Regions from separate parts of the Homo sapiens genome. Here region 2 is linked to region 1. Evidence: fine-mapped QTL for protein levels in blood plasma. A gene starts in region 1. The other region holds a variant in brackets. All regions are shown on one strand. Distances are between the middles of the regions. Region 1 holds the start of PTN (pleiotrophin). Region 2 overlaps DGKI (diacylglycerol kinase iota).

What was found. PIP is the chance, under the fine-mapping model, that this variant and not a neighbour inherited with it causes the effect. Protein levels are from antibody-based Olink assays in UK Biobank. Linkage for the fine-mapping came from a reference panel and not from the study's own genotypes, which makes the PIPs less certain.
Region 2: its variant is fine-mapped to the plasma level of the PTN protein (UK Biobank, PIP above 0.99).

The regions. Positions count from the first base shown.
Region 1 is chr7:137,337,787-137,346,926 of GRCh38, reverse strand. It overlaps PTN (pleiotrophin), which reads left to right and starts at 3,194. Exons shown (of 5, transcript NM_002825.7): 1 at 3,194-3,488. RefSeq lists a cis regulatory region at 2,642-2,651 and promoters at 2,655-3,400, 1,236-3,400.
Region 2 is chr7:137,437,060-137,447,294 of GRCh38, reverse strand. It overlaps DGKI (diacylglycerol kinase iota), which reads left to right. Exons shown (of 33, transcript NM_001321708.2): 28 at 3,193-3,218. Among named protein-coding and RNA genes, the nearest start is that of PTN, 98 kb to the right of the region's middle. RefSeq lists an enhancer at 7,005-7,521. The variant T/C (reference allele first, on the strand shown) is at 3,467.

The DNA of each region.
Region 1 (9,140 bases):
CCCAGCAGTTTGCGAGGCTGAGGTGGGTGGATCACCTGAGGTCGGGAGTTCGAGACCAGCCAAACCAACATGGAGAAACCCCATCTCTACTAAAAATACAAAATTAGCCAGGTGTGGTGGTGCATGCCTGTAATCCCAGCTACTCAGGAGGCTGTAGCAGGAAAATTGCTTGAACCTGGGTGAGCCGAGATCACGCCATTGCACTCCAGCCTGGGCAACAAGAGTGAAACTCCATCTCAGAAGAAAGAAAGAACAACAACATAGGCTATCTGAGAGTAGGGACTGTCAACAGTTTTTCTTCATAGCTCTATCAAGCTAAAGACTTAAGTGCTTAAAGAATATTAGCCTAATGAATGAAATAACTTGGACTCTGGAATCAACAGACCCCTGACTATGCCGTAGGATGAAGTTCGGATTTGAAACTGAGTATTTCACTGTGTATTAAAAAACATTCTACTTCAACTTTGATGAAAATGCTGGATTGAATTAAATTATGACTAATCTCAATCTCATAAATTTCTATTTATTAAAAAAAAAACTCTCTTTAATCCGTCTTTGCATTTTTAAAATACCATGGTGAATAACATTAGGTTTTCTTAACCTCAGCCCTGTTAACATTTTGGGCCAAATAATTCTTTGTTGTGGAGGTGTCAGAGGTGGTTAAACCAGAGCGACTCCATCTTGAATAGGTGCTGGGTAAAATAAGGCTGAGACCTACTGGGCTTCATTCCCAGGAAGTTAGGCATTCTAAGTCACAGGATGAGATAGGAGATTGCCACAAGATACAGGTCATAAGGAACTTGCTGATAAAACAGCTTGTTGTAAAGAAGGCGTCCAAAACCCACCAAAACAAAGATGGCCACGAGAGTGATCTCTGGTCGTCCTCACTGCTCATTACATGCTAATTATAACACATTAGCATGCCAAAAGTCACTCCTACCAGCACAGGACAGTTTACAAATGCCATGGCAGTGTCAGGAAGTTACCATATATGGTCTAAAAAGGGGAAGAACCCTCAGTTCCGGGAGCTGCCAACCCCTTTCCAGGAAAATTCATGAATAACCTACCCCTTGTTTAGCATACAATCAGGAAATGACCAAACAGATGGACAGCCAGAAGCCACTGGGGCTGCTTTGCCTATGGAGTAGCTAGCTATTCTTTATTCCTTTACCTCTCTAATTAACTTGCTTTCACTTTACTCTATGAACTTGCCCTGAATTCTTTCTTGCAACTGAGATCCAAGAACCCTCTCTTGGGGTCTGGACCGGGACCGCTTTCTGGTAACAAAGGCTGTCCTATGCATTGTATGATGTTTTACAGCATCCCCGGCTTCTACCCACTAGATCCAGAGCAACCCCTTCCACCAAGTTGCGACAACCAAGACTACCTCCAGACATTATTCCCTTTTCCTGGAGGGCAAAACTGCTCCCAATTGATAATCACTGATGTATACAATTTTAGTATATACCCATCTGAATAAAGGGTGATATTTTTGGTGTAACATATGTAATTGAGTAGAAATCATGGGAATCTCATGCTTACTTTATCAGCCCTATAGAGAACACCTCAATCAAGCCAGCATTGTTCACCTAACTGGTAGCTAGCTGTATGTTACATTTGTATATGTTAACATAAAGCTGAAGAACAGAAAGAAAATGGATAGCTCTTTGTTCAATGCCTTAGAAACTTTGCCCCTATGGAGTGTTAATAGAATGCTGAGATATCTTTTTTGGTAAAGGGACTGGGAAAAATGCCAAAAAAAAATGCTAATGTGCGTTTCTCCACACTTTATACAGGTGAAATCTGATTAAAACAAGCACTGCTTGCTTCACACAGAAGTGGAATCACAAAAGGAAAACAGGTAACCTGAAGCCTGTGTGTAGGAGAAAGGAACACAGCTTCCTTATTTAGTTATTTCATTTGAGAATTGTATGTGGTATGTATATGAAGAGTTTGGGAAGGGGGATAAATTGTAGGTGTGTAAGTGCATCTCTGATGCCTTTCCTTTTGAAAAGCTTGATTGACTGCTTGATTGAGTTTGTAGAGCCACGTCTGGCTCCAGTCAACTTCTCCAAGGGACATTTCTACAGGTAGCTGTCAATAGAAGAGCCCCAAGTCCCTAAAAACTACTTGCCACAAGACAATGCTTCTAATTTGGGGATTTAAGGATAGTTCTAAGTAAACAAATTGCTTAATAAATATTTGTCAAATTGAAATGAAGGGATGTAACCTCAGAATTATGAAAAATGTGGTCTATTTTACAACCAATTTGGGAAGGACGCCATCAAATGATAAGCTGACCAGTAAAGGTAAAAGTAGGTAAAAGGAGCTAGCCACGGAGCAGGAAAAGCTGATAAGTGGCAGAAAATCTCGAAATTTACATTTCGAAAATGTTTGGGTGAATTTGTATAATACATCTTAATCCTTTTACACAATACTTTTATCTCATCTTTATCATAAATATTTACCTATGCATTGCCTTAGCGTCTTTCCTGTATTGAATGAAATGACAATTCCAGAGACGCAAAGCCCAGCCTCCAAGTTTTACAAACCTCAGAGTTTGAGCTACTTTGACGAATCCTCTAAATTCTTGGGTGTCAAAGGCATGTTACTAAATAGGTTGCTAAAGGCACCAAGGAAACCAAAAAAGGAAAGAGCTCTCCCTAAAGGTAAGTAGCACTTAATTGGGAACTTTGAGACGTCTGTCACTCTTTGTGACAATTGAGAAAAAGTACTTTGTACATTTTGTGCTTTGCAGGTGAGATGTGACTGACACCTTACTGTCTCTGTGTTTAGAGAGGGCTTTCGTGGGTGGAAGAAGAGGCTGGTTTGAAGAGAGTGCTTTTCCATTCTGAATATCATTAAAGGATTGTGGGGGGCCAAAAATGTAACCTAAAATGCCATCAATTGTCCATTTAAAATATCCTATTTGGCAAAGTGGCTTTGCACTCATCTGAAGAATAGATCATGGGTGGAGTTTGGAAAAGAAATGTTGTGTTTCGTCTCTGCTAAAAACAAAACAAGGTACCATCTCATGGCCTCTTGGTTCAAATCCGTTTTCTTGCTCCGCAGGGAGAGACTGCCCCTGGAGTATTCTGCTTTTAATAAGCTTCCCAATCAGCTCTCGAGTGCAAAGCGCTCTCCCTCCCTCGCCCAGCCTTCGTCCTCCTGGCCCGCTCCTCTCATCCCTCCCATTCTCCATTTCCCTTCCGTTCCCTCCCTGTCAGGGCGTAATTGAGTCAAAGGCAGGATCAGGTTCCCCGCCTTCCAGTCCAAAAATCCCGCCAAGAGAGCCCCAGAGCAGAGGAAAATCCAAAGTGGAGAGAGGGGAAGAAAGAGACCAGTGAGTCATCCGTCCAGAAGGCGGGGAGAGCAGCAGCGGCCCAAGCAGGAGCTGCAGCGAGCCGGGTACCTGGACTCAGCGGTAGCAACCTCGCCCCTTGCAACAAAGGCAGACTGAGCGCCAGAGAGGACGTTTCCAACTCAAAGTAAGTGAGAGGAACGTACGATTTCTCGGAGGGCTCTTCGATCGAGTTTGCCTTCACCCTGTGCCACTTTTCTGGGTGCCAGCAGATGATGGTGGTAGGGGTGAGAGAGGCTGCCTGGTGTCTTTGCTGATAGGACTGCTTTCAAAACTGACTTGCTCCAGAGGCCAAGGGAGGCATATTTTTGGGGTTTCAGGTTAGGTTAGTTCGGGTGTGCTTAGGTAAGTGAAAGGAAAGAAGTTTTTGTGATGTTAAGCATGTATTTGGACCGTGTTCCAGCTACCAGCTGGAGAGCAAGACAGGGTGGGCTGGAGAGTGCATCTTTGCTTTTTGTAAAACCTGGAGCTTTAGTAGGTGTGTCTCTGGCTGGGTAGGTGCAAAGAAAGTAAGGCAGCCTGAACAAGCAGCTCTCATTTTCCCAGCCTCTCTCTGATTCTCTGATTGCCCCAGAGCCTGTCAGCCCATGACTCTTAGCTGGCATTTCTAGGTAAGCTGTGGGGGCTTGTTCCTCCCAGTGCTAGCTGACATGAAACGTCTCTCACGGAACTACTGGCACCCGTCTTCCCACCTGACAGCCCAGGAATGGTTCCAGAAATGGTTAGGTCCAAAGTTTAGAAGACACACCTGGAGTCCCATCTCTCATTTGAATGCAAATTTAAAGAACTGCCCAGTACATAGACCCTTAAACTTTTAATTTGACCCACATAAATTTAGGATATATTTGTTACTAATTTACTAGATATTTAGAGTTTCTGAGTTGTTGTTTCTAATAAGTTAAGAAAACATTTTTTGAGAGGAATGTATTCAACTCCTTTCTTAATAGATGGAAAGTGAAACCTCCTCTCTCCTCTCCATACACACACACCCCTTTCTCCATGACATAATGTGACACAACACACACACACACACACACAGGAACACACACATGCAGTTTATATACACTCTAGTGTTAACTCACCCTTGTGTCTGTTAAGAGCTGCTTTGTAAGTTTGGGGACACATTCAGAAAATAGGAGGGGTAGGGGTGCTAAGAGGAGAAAATATTAAAGCTGCGGTCCTTGAGCATCTCTCATTTTAAGAGTTATCAGGCATTTTGCTTTAGCAGCTTGAGAAAGGGGTGATGTGTGTGTGTGCGTGTGCATGTGCGTGTGTGTGTGCTAGAGAGAGGGGTCTGGGAGGAGATTTAGAAATCACCAAAAAGAGCTCTGGACTAATAACATAATGAAACATTTTATGATCCTAGGCAAATGTGGAATTGATGAAACAGCAGGGCCCATTTTAGCCCCTTAATTATCCGGGAATGCATTGATATGTAGAAATATTGAAAGTTAATGACAATGAAACAAAAGAGAAGTCTCCCAACACAGAAAATAAAGCTGTATTTTCCATCTTCATTATGTTTCCTTTTAAGTAAATTATGCACTTTAAAGGCCAAGTCGTTTAAAAAATATAGTCCAGTTAAATTCAGAGGAAATTAGAATGAATATTTTTTTCTTCCTTTGGGACATGAGTTATTTCAGACTGGCAATATTTGTACTTTTTCATTTAAATTAGAAGATGAGATTTTAAAAAATTATATTATTTAAAAAAAACTCTAATGCCATCCTTTTGTGCTTTAAGAAACTTGGGCCTTAAGTTCTCTAATTGTACTTTAAATAAATAGAAGGTGATCTTTTTTCTGCCACTGCTCACTGGTTCCCTTTAGGACATCTTTTTCTGCATTTAGTGAAAAGCCACTATAAGGAACTCCCACCTGAAGCCACATATAACAGCATTAGGTGCTGTGTTCCAGCTGTTTGCTTCTGGATGCAAATGCATTATGTTCTCAAAGCTAGAGCTTGAGATAAATAAAAGTACTATTAGATACATGACTTTTTAATTATCTGACTTTAAATGAGATATTATAGATAATTAGAGTAATAAGGTATACCTAACTATATTTATAGTCTAATGTATTATATGTATTATATATAATTCTCTGTTTTTTTAGACCCCTTTCCATGAGATCATGAGATTTGGTTTAATAAACGTATTAATTTATTGATATTTTCCATATGCCTTATTTGGGCTTCACATATAGCAACACATAACAAGATCTACATTTCTTTTTAATGAGCATTTTCATTTTTTAAAAAAATTTCAGTCAAGCCAATGGCCTGGTTTAAAATTTCATAAAAGCCTAGTTGTTGAAAACAACAGAGAGAAATAAGATCCCCAGATAGTTGAATCACTTTTTTTAGTAAAATCAATCTTAGATATCAAATATTTTAACTTTAAATATTTTATTTTTCCTTTGAAGATATTTTTGCTTTCTCACTTACATGGCATTCTCACATGAATTCTGACCATATTCCTATTTGTCATGTGGTGTTTTTAATTACTATTCAAAAATTTCCCACAAAATCGAGTTTACCCGGCTCGTTGAAAATGGTGTGATAAATTAACAATAGATTGAGGGCCTGAAGTCAGAATTCAGAATACAAATTCCAGTTCTCTAAAGAATTATGCTTTTTAATATGGCGGCATAATGATATGGGGAGTTGTTCTTGACTTCTCTCAGGAAGGAGGTGTCCAGACTGAGACCACCCAATGTGATGAGTGCAAACATCCTCCACACCTGAGTGCACCTCAGCCCAGTTTGAGATGTGCTTTTCTCTGGAGCATGAGGCTGAGTGGGAGCTCTCCAATGGCCTTTGTTCCATAGCTTTGCTAGTGATGTTGAGTTGGGCTTCTCCATAAGGGTGAGGAATGTTTTTAGCTCTGGCTTCTGTTCTAAATGAATAGTCGAAGAGTTTTTGCCTCCTTCTGGCACAAGGTCATGTCACTGCTGTGGGAGGCGAAGTAAGATGATACTCAGATATGAACCTTCTTTTTATGAGCTGGGCTTGCTTTTTTCCATCCAGAGTCAATTGGCTTAAGTGGAATTTGGGCCATGGCCTCGTGGAAAGTTGTTTTTCCTTCTGATGTTTATGGACAATTCAAGTTTCCACCCACTGGGCTATTTTTCCATCCACTTCAAGCCAGTCTAGTGTGCGGCATAGTTTTCATGGTGTCATTACAATATTTCTAGATTGTAAAATATAACAAACCTCTTTTTCTTTCTATTTTGGCATTTAGTAAATAAGAAATTAAAACAGTATCTTAAAAGGGTAGCTATGATGGAACACTATCAGAGGGTATTATAAATATGGGAATATTGTGGACTTAATTATGTAGATCACATTCACCACAAATCTCTATTTCTTCAGGGTGGACAAGGAATACAATGACTCCTTCATGTTTGAGATATTTTTAGGGATAAAATTTAATTCATTTTTCTAGGCTTTATTTATTGAACCATTTTTTCAGAGTGGGTTGAGATAAAGTGATATCTCAAACAGAAAAAAATCATATCCAGTTTTCTAAAAATAGAAGTCTTAGATTTTTTTCAACTTCACACATAGTGTAACAAAAAATCAAGCGCTGTATATTAATCTTGAAAAAAGTGACTCATAGTAACTGATAATTGGGCTCTTAATTCTAAGAATTGCTCTTAGCAAAAGCTAAAACATAATTTTAAAACACAAATAGCATTCTGTCTCTAACCCTTTGCTCCCTTTTCTTCCTGCTTTTACATTTACCTATTTCTCCTTCTTTTCTCTCATTTCTCCATTAATTTGGTTGCCACTATTTCCCACCCAACAGGTCCCAGAACGTCTTGCCCAATTCCCTCTTGCTATGATGGCATACATTTCTCTATGTACGGATGTACCAGGAATGCCTGCCCATATGTTGGCATTCTTGGAAGCTTGGACCTTCCTAGCTGATGTTTTCAACACCAGTGCCCTCTCTACTGATTCAATGGCATTTTTCCCCCATTTTTTTTTTTTTTTTTGATTCAAGACCCTGCCTAAGGGTCAGGCAACATTTTCATCACTGCAATGTTGACCTCATTCTCTTCTCAGTTTCCCAACATCAATGTAGAGGCGCAGCTGGAGTTACTCATGTCCATCACATCGTCTCGGGGTCCTACTCCAACAATACAATTTTTCTTGCTCCTGTGGCCAGCCAATTTAACAATATTTATTGTACGTATGTTGGATGCCTAATACTACATTGTGCTGGACAATGTAGCATGTTTAAGAAATAGAACATGGTGTCTATCTCTATGGTTTCACAATATCTAATACTTTGTGTTTGGTACGTGGTGTGAACTTGTGAAATTCTTTATTAGAAATGTATTTAAAGGAGATCTCAATTAAAATCCATTATACCCTCACCCATCTCTGGAAAAGATGCTTTAAAAGTCACAGATTGCTAATCCCAACATTTTATGATTATCTCATACTGTAACCTCCTTGATATGTTATTGTCTTAATGTTTTCCTAATTTCTTTGGGCACTCCTTTTTTCATGTTTTGTTTTGCTTTTTTTTTTCTTGTCTTCCAAATGTGTACATTTATTTCCAAATATTTCAGTTTCCCGCCTTCCTCTCTCCTCTCCAAATGCTTTAGTATTGTCACAACTCTTCTTTGAGCTTTAACTCCTTCACAAGGAAAATTCTCAGATCTGAAGAGAATTGAAGGAAGATTCTCTCTAATGAGCTCTGGACTCACATTTTTAATATTTTTTCAATGAATACTGAAGGAAATCATTCAGGCACAATTCTATTTGGAGGAGGAGATTGAAGTAAAGGACTTCCTGTTATTTTATTTTTATCCCTACCAGACTTTTACGCATAGTGACTGACATACTATATGGTAGGTAGTGTGATGAGGGAAACAGGACAAATAAATATGTCTTCAAGCAGCTAATGATCTACTCAATATATATGTAAGAACATTAAAACACTAATTACTACAACACAGGTTAGAGGAAGATATGTACAATTGTTGCCCTAAGCAGTTCCAATGACAAAGGGATCACATTTTTATGAGAAAAAGGAAAGTGGAGCTCACAAAAGGCTAAATGGTACGCAACGTCTATTTCAAAAGCATTATGTCTGTTTGTTCCTTTAATGCTGTTTATTCTGGAAGGGAAATTGAACTCCTGATTCCTTCGTGTTTTCATTTCACATTTGCCACATAACGTAGCAGAAACAAATTATTGGAAGTGACAACTTAAGAATTCAGACTGAGTTTATTTAGAATCAATATAATTTTTAAGACATGGCACTCCCTGTAGATGTCCTTTTCAGGAAAATTTATACCAGAAGAGAAGAGTGTCCTTTAATGAAAACATATACATGAAGGGAAAGAAGGCAAATCCTTGTACTTCAGCTGTGGAATTTGGGTGAAATCTTGAGTCGGAAATTGAAGGCACCAAAGGTTTTCCAAGGCAAATGCCCCCTCTAGGTGGAGCTATATTTCTTCCCTTGTCTTCGAAGTCTCCCCATCACCCCTTATAGTGACTTCAGCTCCTCCTTTCTCACCATTTGACACCAGCCCCACCCCATCCAACCTGTGCACCCTATTAAGGCAAGGGCTGTCTCTCATTCTCTCAAGAACCCTAGCATATTTAGCATAGAACCATTGAAGATGGCAAATGAGTGAGAAAATAGGCAGCTCTAAATGCCATTCATTCTCTTTGCCCATGTTGTTCCACCCACCTTGACCATCTGTGTTCTATGCCTAATCCCCTTGCCTTACCAAACAACCTGGTGCCAATTTCCTGTTTAA
Region 2 (10,235 bases), 100 kb before region 1:
CCCTTGGCACATGGCCTGGTAATAATAGGGTCTCAAGTAATAAATTGAATCAACATAAATGGAGAGAGTCAAACCTGAATAATAATGATTTAGGCTTAGTAGGAGAAATATTTTTAAATGCATGGCTTGAATTTTTGTTTTGTATTATTTTGCTGCATTTAAGCAAAATAAAATGTAAAAAGTACCAAAATAAATAAAAACAAAGCACAAACAAATATGAATATTCTGTAGCTAAAGGACTCATGATCAGGAAAGAAGTGAAGAGGACAGCTATAAGAATGCTAGTAATAGTTTACACTATAAGGGCAGATGCTTGCTCCAAGATAAAGTATACATGGAGGAAAAATAAACAGTCTGGGATACAACCACATGTCTTTCAGGTGTGGTGAAAAGAATAACCAGAGGGCTTTCCTGCATGCCTCAGTTGTCAGGTTTAAGATAATTATCTCTTTTTGGGATTGAACCTCTGTTGTTAAAATAACTACTTATATTGCTGATTTCAGAATATTTCTTCTCTCCTGAGCTAACTTCTTTCCCCTCCCTCTCTCTCTTTCTTTCTTTCTTTTTTGAGACAGAGTTTTACTCTTGTCACCCAGGCTGGAGTGCAATGGCGCGGTCTCGGCTCACTGCAACCTCTGCCTCCCAGGTTCAAGTGATTCTCCTGACTCAGTCCCCTGAGTAGCTGGGATTACAGGCACCCACCACCATGCCCAGCTACTTTTTGTATTTTCAGTAGAGACGGGGTTTCACCATGTTGGCCAGGCTGGTTTCAAAATCCTGACCTCAGGTGATCCACACATGAGCTAACTTTTTATGCCGATTTCCAGCAATAATGGATGATGTGCATGTCTCAGTAGTGCAGTGCAGTAACTTGTTGCAGTGAAAGGTGAAATACTGAGTGAGGATGGAAATACTCCATATGTCTTAAAATTCCACAAAGCCAGGCATATGGGAGACATTCAACATGGAAACTCAACATGACTAATTTTCACAAAACACTCTGAAATTGATATTTTATCCACTGCCTGGACATACTGCAGAATGCGTCCCCTTGGGACTCTAACGGAGCCATCTGGAATTTTTCAGATTTAATATCAGGGCTTTGCTTTTGCACAAAGCCAGCAAAGACCTTGCTTCACAAGCTCTCCACTTGAGACATTTAGTTGTCCTTTGGCATGAATTTTACTTTGTTCCTGTAGCTCTGTGACAAATTAATTGCAAACAATCCAAGACACGTTTTCACTTACTTCTCATCAGCAAACACCAGGAGGAAAGATATTTCCTTGTGGCTGATTCTAGTATGACCTAAGCACCTGAAGAAATTAGCTCATCTTACTTAAAATATAGGTTCTCTTTTAGATTCAGCTTCTAATTTCATTTCACCTCTCATTCAATACTCCCCTCCCCAACTTTATTTTTAATAATAATGGAGGCAGAATATGGGTGCCTGTGTTTCTGGGTGCTTTTGATGTCCTTTGGCTCTGAGAGTGTCCACATTATAACCAATTGGAGCTTCAGGCACTTTCAAGTCTCTAGGACTTTTCCTTGCAGCTGGCCTAGGAGCAGGCAAGCTTGTCTTAAGGATGGTTTTACAGTAACATGATGACTTTTTGGGAAGCTCCAGAATGTGTCAGTCTGAATATCAGTGTGATGGAACTGAGATTAATTCAATTCAACACATTTTAATTAAGGGCTCATCTGTTCTAAATAAGATACAGCCTTAGTTTTCAAGGGGGTTACAACCCAGTGAGAAAGGCTGGTATGTGGATGATAAAAAATAAGGGAATCCAGTGGGAGGATAAATCAACCCTACCCAGGGAGGCCAAATGGTGCTTCTCAGGCAGTGTTGACTAGGGATTGTGGCAGGTTTCCGCTCACCACCCCCATGTCCATCTCCCAGAAGCCAATTTTCTTTCCACCAAATCTTGGGACTCTGTAGTTTTCATGAAAAAGTCTACTTTAAGAGATTTGCACAGTTGAAATAAATTGATACTTTGCCACTCATTGAGGTTCAAGGCCTTTTCTCCTTTACCACTGTGTCTTTATTCTTTACTGTTCACTCACATAATAAACAGTAATCTTACTAACCAGTAGATAAAGTCATATCAAGCATCCCAAAGTAGCTAAAAATTATTTTCAACCATTTTTGTATTGACTGAATGATTCTTGTCCTGAGGTTTATCTTCATGTCTCATAAATATTAGTTATAGTAATTGGCAGCTCTATTGCCAAACTCCTGAGTTTATCTTTGGCCATTTCCCTGCTATGGATTTGAGTGAGCCAATCATTCAGAGAAGAGGACTCCTTCAAAATAGGGGAAGTATGTGATGTCTTGTCTTTCCCTTCGAAATTTCAACAACTCTGAATATAATGTTATATGTCTCTCTCTTTCTCCTCAGAAAAGAATAAGTGTGAGTCAAAGCCGTAGTCTTCAAGCTGGAGGTGAATTCATCTCCAAACTTAGGTCTATACTACTCAAAGTATTTCAACTAGTAGTCAACTGGGGGGAAGCAAGCCTTTTAGGGTTGATATGATTTTTCATTTGAGATCTGATTATCATAATTAAAGCAGAACTCACATATAGTTTGCAAAAGTTGTTGATAAAGTTCTGAGGAACCTCAGTGATTGCCTTCTGGCCTCATGCTGTTTCTCCCGGGTTCTGAGACATAATGCAGCGAATAGAGGGTCAGCTCACTCAAACATTAAATTCCATGAAGAGTGAAAACAAAAACTGGTAATGATAAGGGTGCATGCTATTTCTTTTACCTCTGTCTCAATTTATACTGTTCAAGTAGATCTCTTTGTATCTACAGACACCCAATCTAATGCTTTTTTTATATCCCTGGCTGGAGCCATGTCCTTGGGCAATACACATCACAGGATTTCATCTATACTACATTTCTATGAGTTCTCTTTTTTTGTGTGGTAAATCTAGACTTAGCTAAGTTTGTTGCAGTCCTAGGACACCATGCATAGACTGATATTTTAGTAACCTGTAACATCCAACCAATCCAGGTAAGAGTTGGGAATTGTTGATTGAAATATACCATGCAATCAACACATTAATTACACTGTCTACTATATTGACTTTCCATTTAATTCAATTTGAGGGTAAAATTACTATGAAATTATTCTTGATTATCATTATAATTATCATATAAAATATTGATCATGCTTATTATTTCCTTTTAGGTCACCAGTCTCTTCAGAAGATCATGGTAAGAATCATCTGTCTTATTTATACCAATTCAGGATTGAAACTTGACCCCTGGTCTTTGCAGTTCATTGTCAGAGCAAATAATTGTTTAAGCAAATGTCTCTAAGATATTGGCTTTGTGGTTTTTGAATGTGAAATGTCAAACACTTTTAAAAACTTAAATCACCCTAGCTGAATTTGATATCTTTCAAATCTGTTCCAACCCGTCTGGTTGACGAATATTGTGAAGCCTTAATTTATTCTGCCTGA[T/C]TTCAGTCCCATCAGCAGAAACTTTTTGTGGTTTTGTGGTTTTGGACTAGTCCTGTGCTTTTTATGACTCAGATTTTTATCCTTAAAATGATAAAAATTTTTGTGGTAGTTTGTGGTAGATATTCCCTACAGTCCCTTCCAGAATGGACATTGGGATCATGTTCCAATCACTCATTTGTGAAGAGCACTCTAAATCTGAAAGGAAGGCAAGCAGTCAGTGGTATTTGTTGTTACCCAGTTGAGATGAATTGTTTGCATTTTAAGAGACAGCTAATTCACTCAAAAGAGAAAATATCTCATTTTGTTCCATCTCACCTTTGGAGTTGTTCATTTATCCAATCAGTCACAAAAGTGTTAAGTGTCTACAATGATCAGTTATGCTATGTAGTTATGTTTTACAAATATGCTATATGGAACTTTGGTTTGGGGCCCCTTTGTATCTTACTTGGACTTTGGAAATTCTCTCATAATTGGTATCCATACCTCTATATTTCTTTTCCCTAGTACACTGTATACCGGGCTAGCACCAAAATGATCGTTCCATAGTAAAAATCTGCTCCGATGGCCTCTAGAATGAAATCTTTCCAGCCGACCAATAATTGTGTTCAGCTTTTCAATATTGTATTTTAGCATGGACTAGTAAGCACTAAATGATGGAATCTTTGTCTTCCTCCACTGCTTATTGCTTCATTTACCATCTTTTCCCTTCTCCTACCCATGATCTGTTTTCCAGCCATGTGACAATACATCTAATTCTACATCAAATTTCTGGAGCTCACCATCTTTTCTGCCATCTCCCTGCTTTTCTCCATACTGTTCTCTCTGACAGGATGCTACTTCTTTTGCCATATAGATGGTTTCTATGCACCTCACCTCATCCTCTGTAAGGGCTTGCTGATCTGCTTATCGTTGTGCCTAATATTTTTCTACATTCTAGGGCTTAATGCGCAAATTTCATGCTTTATTTACCTGTTTTCCCTATTAGACTATGAGTTCTTTGATATAGTTTCCAACGAAGAGCAAACAAGGAAAAAGTGTTTATTAAATGAATGAATTAAGAAAAGGGAGAAGGAGTTTTAGGCTGGCCTCTTCTACTGCCACATTGTGAAATCTGACTTAGTACTGGAATGAAGTTGTGTTATTCTCTATGAAGAATCATAGGGAAAATTATGTTCAGGCCCATTAAGTCAGGATCAGGCAATTGACCACCTAATGGTAACCTGCTATTATGTGCTATTTTGCTGATTGCTGTTGGTATTACTAGGTGTTTGCCCATTTATATAGGCCCTTGGGCTTCCATGTTCACATTATAAACTAGAAGCTTGTGTTTGGTTTTTATTTTGAACTAGGATTCCCTTTAATGACTTTTGGTTGTCTTTGCCTTCCTGTCTATGAGAATTTATTCCTCATTCAGACAAAAATGGTGGGTGAGGGAAACTTGTGAATTATAATTTGATAATCCACTAGGACTTCTTAAGTGGTTATGAAATAATAGGGGGCATATGTCAGGGTCCTTTGAAGTCCTAAAGGGTGACTACTGACAGAAAGACTTGCTTGGAAGATTAAGAGCACTTCAGAATTGATTATTTTAAGAACCTTATATGTGATTAGTTGAAGAAACATTATTGAAATTAGAGGGCCATTATAATTTCATGGCTTCAAAAAATTTCTTACATGTTCATACCTCTTAGTTTGTTTCTGTGACTTCCAAAAATAGTTCAAGTACATAATGCAAAATTATAGTGATGATTTACCTAATCCTATGTAATTGTTCATCATTTTCTAGCCCATATATTCTTGAAAAAAAGCTTTTTTCTTTATTACCAGAATTTTCTATCCACCACTCAAAATATATTTCCTTCTTTTTATACATTTTTAAGAGCTCATGTGTACTATGGCTAGTATAAAACCTCTTGAATGTTATAGCATCAATCTTACATATTATTTGTACACAATAATGGCATTGCAACACACTTGTAGGAGAGGTGAGAAGTAGCAATTTGTCTTTCTCAAATTTATTGGTAGAAAATTTAAGGCATGTTGGACACATGGATTGTGAAATTGGAATATAAAACCTTACGTCTCTTGATTTTCTATTTTGTTTGCTTTCCTCAAATAGTCCTCCCTCTGTAATAACTAGTCACTTTGGCTCTAAGACAAGAACTTATTCTTGGAAAAATCTAATTTTGCAACGTCCAATAACCCTGGTATTTTTCATTCCCATGGTACTCTTGCATAGAGAGCTTAAATACAGTGGCTTTGTCCTTTACCTTATCTTGTTTGTTTTCTTTTCCTTGTCTGTAAAATGGAGCTAATCATAAACTGCGTACCTCATGGGATTGTAGCAAGTTCAATTGAGAAATCATTTGTGAAATCACTTTCTGATTTTTTTTTTTTTTTTTTTTTTTGAGACGGAGTCTCACTCTGTCGCCCAGGCTGGAGTGCAGTGGCACGATCTCGGCTCACTGCAAGCTCTGCTTCCCGGGTTCACACCATTCTCCTGCCTCAGCCTCCCAAGTAGCTGGGACTACAGGCGGCCGCCACCATGCCCGGCTAATTTTTTGTATTTTTTAGTAGAGACGGGGTTTCACCGTGTTAGCCAGGATGGTCTCGATCTCCTGACCTCTCGATTCGCCCACCTCGGCCTCCCAAAGTACTGGGATTACAGGCATGAGCCACCGTGCCCGGCCCACTTTCTGATTTGTTAAAAGCACCCCAAACATAGTATTATTCGCTAGCATCCAGGCAGTAGAAGAGGAAGCACAAGTTTATCTGTGATGTTTGCTCGGGATTATGTTCCGCCCTTGAAAAGTTTAAAGAGGACGGGAGAGAATAACCGTTTTTTTCATTATCATTAAATTTTCTCTGGAAACCTTTTATTACATCAGGGTGAGGAGGAGTAAAATGTTTAATACACCATTTAGCTTATAGTGCCAGAGTAAAGGCTCAGTTGATGATTAGATGTGTGGTCATATAGAATTGGCAACACAAGGTCTAAATGACACATAAACTGTTTCTATATTTATATAATAGCGCATCAGGGTCACTAAGAATAAAGGCTAAATTGTATTGAGTGCTTATTATGCAGAAGCACTGTGCTCGCATGCTCCAACTGCCTTATGTCCTTTCATCTTTCACAAATAACACTCTGTAGTCAATGTATCACCCCCAGTTTCACAGCTGCAAAAGCAGGCTCAGAGTGCTTAAATAACTTGCTTAAGGTCACATAGCTAGTAGGTGAGAGAGTTAATTTTCAGACCCAATTCTAACAATCAAACTCTTAACTCTCTTTTATCGGCCATGTCCCTGGAAAACCAAAGACATGATTGAATGGATAGAACTATGGAGATAATTCTTCCCTCCTCTAACAAGAGTATATTTACTACTGTGTAAGTTAATTTCTTTTTAATGACAAAACAGAGCAGAACAAAAATAACAACTTCTCCCTCCTGCTGGTAATGATTTGTCCCTGTAGAAAAAGGAAATACCAATGTCACATTTTCTCATAATTAGTTAACTGAGTGAAACTGAAGTTTCAGGGAAACCTGCCATGCTAAACCCCAGTGGAAACATTAAGTTTTAATGTTACATCTGGAAACTGGAGCCCTACTCCTTGTTAGAAGATAAGCTTGGCAGTGATTGATTGCACTGTCCTCTGCATTTCCTCTGTATTGAATGCCTATCACTTCGTCATTTAAATTGCTCCTGGAGCCATCTCCTGGGCCCAGGCTGCTTCCCTGGCTCTGAGAACTCATCTTCCTTTCTGTCACCTTAGCCTGCTTATTTTACAGGCTCCTTGGAATGCTGCGCTTACCGCTGCTTCACTTACTGCTGCTACCTGTGCCAGCACACTCAGGGCAGGTCATCTTCCAACTAATGTCTGTTCATTTACAAAATAAAAGGCATTAGTGGCTTCTCAAAGAAAGTGCCAGCAATCTGCTGCATGCCCCACTGGAACATCTGAGGCAGGCATCCCTCTCCTGTCCTACCTCTTAGACCTGTTGTCAACTATGGCCGTCACATTCTAGGGCAGCTTTTTTGTTGCAGCAGTAACATAGTGGACATGAATTGCAGTAATGGCTATTTGGAAATAAAATTGTCACAACCACAATCACTAGTGTAAAGTGTTCAATAATGAATCCACTGTCAGGCTTGGAGACGGCTGTACTTGGCAGTAGGTTACTGATATGGTTTGGCTGTGTCCCCACCTAAATCTCACCTTGAATTGTAATAATCCCCATGTGTCAAGGATGGGGCCAGGTAGAGATAATTGAATCATGGAGCAGTTTCCCCCATACTGTTTTCGTGATAGTGAATAAGTCTCATGAGATCTGATGGTTTTGTAAATGGGAGTTCCCCTGCACAAGCTCTCTCTTGCCTGCCACCATGTAAGACATCCCTTTGTTCTTCCTTCGTCTTCCGCCATGATTGTGAGGCCTCCCCAGCCATATGGAACTGTGAGTCCATTAAACCTCTTTCCTTTATAAATTATGCAGTCTTGAGTATGTCTTTATTAGCAACATGAGAATGGATTAATACAGTTATGCAGTGAAACACACTGTGGCGTGGCCCAAACTCTTTGAGGCATCAATGGCTGTACCTCATCAATTCACTTTTCTTTCATGTATATTACTGAAATAGATACTATTCATAAAATATATAAAATGTTATCTGCTCAGTTTAAATAATAAGCAAAACGAACTACTGTGTACTTGGCCCTCAGACTAAGAAGTAAAACATTTGTAGGAATTTGGGAGCTTCATGTCATTTGCTTCCCTAATTATGTCCCCTTCCCTCTCCTTCAGAAATAACTACTATTCTGCCTTTTTGTTAATCATGTCCTTGTTTCTTCTTGTTTTACTACATATATGCATATCTTACATATGAATGGATACGTGGATATATAACTCATATATGTATTCCTATATGTGTGTATATGTGTGTGTGTACATAGTTTTATGTATTTTGAATTTGTACAAATTGAATCATGTTGTTATTTGTTTCTTTTGTTCAAAAGAATAATTTTTGTGATTCATCCTTATGGATGAGTGCCATATGCATTTCATCAATAGTTCATGTTGTATACTACTCTATTGTATGAGTATATACCAATTTATATATCCAATCTGCTAATGAATATTTACATAAATAACAGGTTTCTTGGGGGTTTGTTTTTGTTTTGCTCTTGCAAACAATATTACTATGAACATTCTCTTTTTTGTAACTCTTCCTCGTATCCATGCGCTTAAACCTGGGAATAGCTTAAGTTAGGTGGTAGATTATACACATATTTAACTTATAGCATTATAACATGTTGTTTTCCAGAGTGATCATTTTAATATACACTCCCAACTTCAGTGGATAAGAGTTCCCATTGATCTACATCCTCACCAACACTTGATATTAACTAATTTAAAAATGTTTGCTAGTCTTGTGAAAGTATGAAATGGCATCTCAATGTGATTTTAATTTGTAGTCAATGATTACACATGAGATCAAACATCTTTTCATATACTTATGGGCCATTTGTGTTTACTCTTCTATGAAAGGTCTTTTTATTTCTTTTACTCACTTTTCCCCACCTGGTTGGTTGTGTTCTTCTTAATGATTTATGAACTTTTTAATGTATTCTATGTAAAAATTATTTTGTTTCCTATGTGTGTTGCAAATTTTCTCCAGTTTGTGGCTTATCTGTTCGAGCTCTTTTTGATGTCATCTGATGAATAGATGGATATTCTTTATTTTACTGCAGTAAAATCATTAATGTTTTCTCTATGGTTTATGCCTTTGGTATTTTTTAAAGAAATCTTTCAAAGCATAATCATAAAGATATTGTCTTGTAAAATTTTTAGAATGCTTTCTTTAATATTTGATAACTTGGAATTGATTTTTGTGGTTTGGTAAGAGATAAAGGTCAAATTTAATTTTGATTCTGTTCATATACATAACTAGCTATTTCATTTTCATTCATTTTCTTCACTGACTTACAAAGTCTGTCGTCTCCCTGTAAATGTGAGTCTCTAGGTTCTATTTTCTGTTATATTGATGAATATATCTATCCCTGTGCTATTGTTTTAGTTGTTATAACTTTGGTATGAGTCCAGATATCTGTTGGAGGATATATCCTGTAATTTGTCCTTTGGGAGTGACTTGGTTATAATTGAGTTTTGCCTGTTTCATATAAATTATAAAATTAGCGTATCAAATTTTGTGGTGAAATTTTTTATGAAAATTGCATGAATCTATAAATTTGTATAAAGAAAATTGATATTTCTATGATAATGCATCATTCTATTCCAAGCCACATCTCTTGACATTTAATTGGCTTTTTCAAATGGCTATGAATAGAGTTTTATAATTTCCTTCATGAAGGATTTGGTCATTTTTGTGTTAAATATATTCCTAGGTACTTTATATTTTTAGTGACAATTTGTATGTTGTATTTTTAAAATTATGTTTTCTAAGTAGTCTTTGCTGGCATATTGAAATGCAGTTGAATTTTAAAATCTTGTTTCTTTATCAATATTCCTGCTAAAGTTTTAAATTCATAAATCTTATCTGAAGCGTCTTTTTGTGGGAAGAGAATTCTATATAGGCAATCTCATCTACAAAGAATTTTGTTTCGTCCTTTCCAATCATTATGCTTTGTATACATATTTCTGGTGCTTTCTGCACTGGTTAAAACCTTCAGTGCAGTATTGACTAGTAACAGAGATAGTCAGCATCATTGACTTGTTCCTGATCCCAAAGTGAGTGCCATCCACAAGTC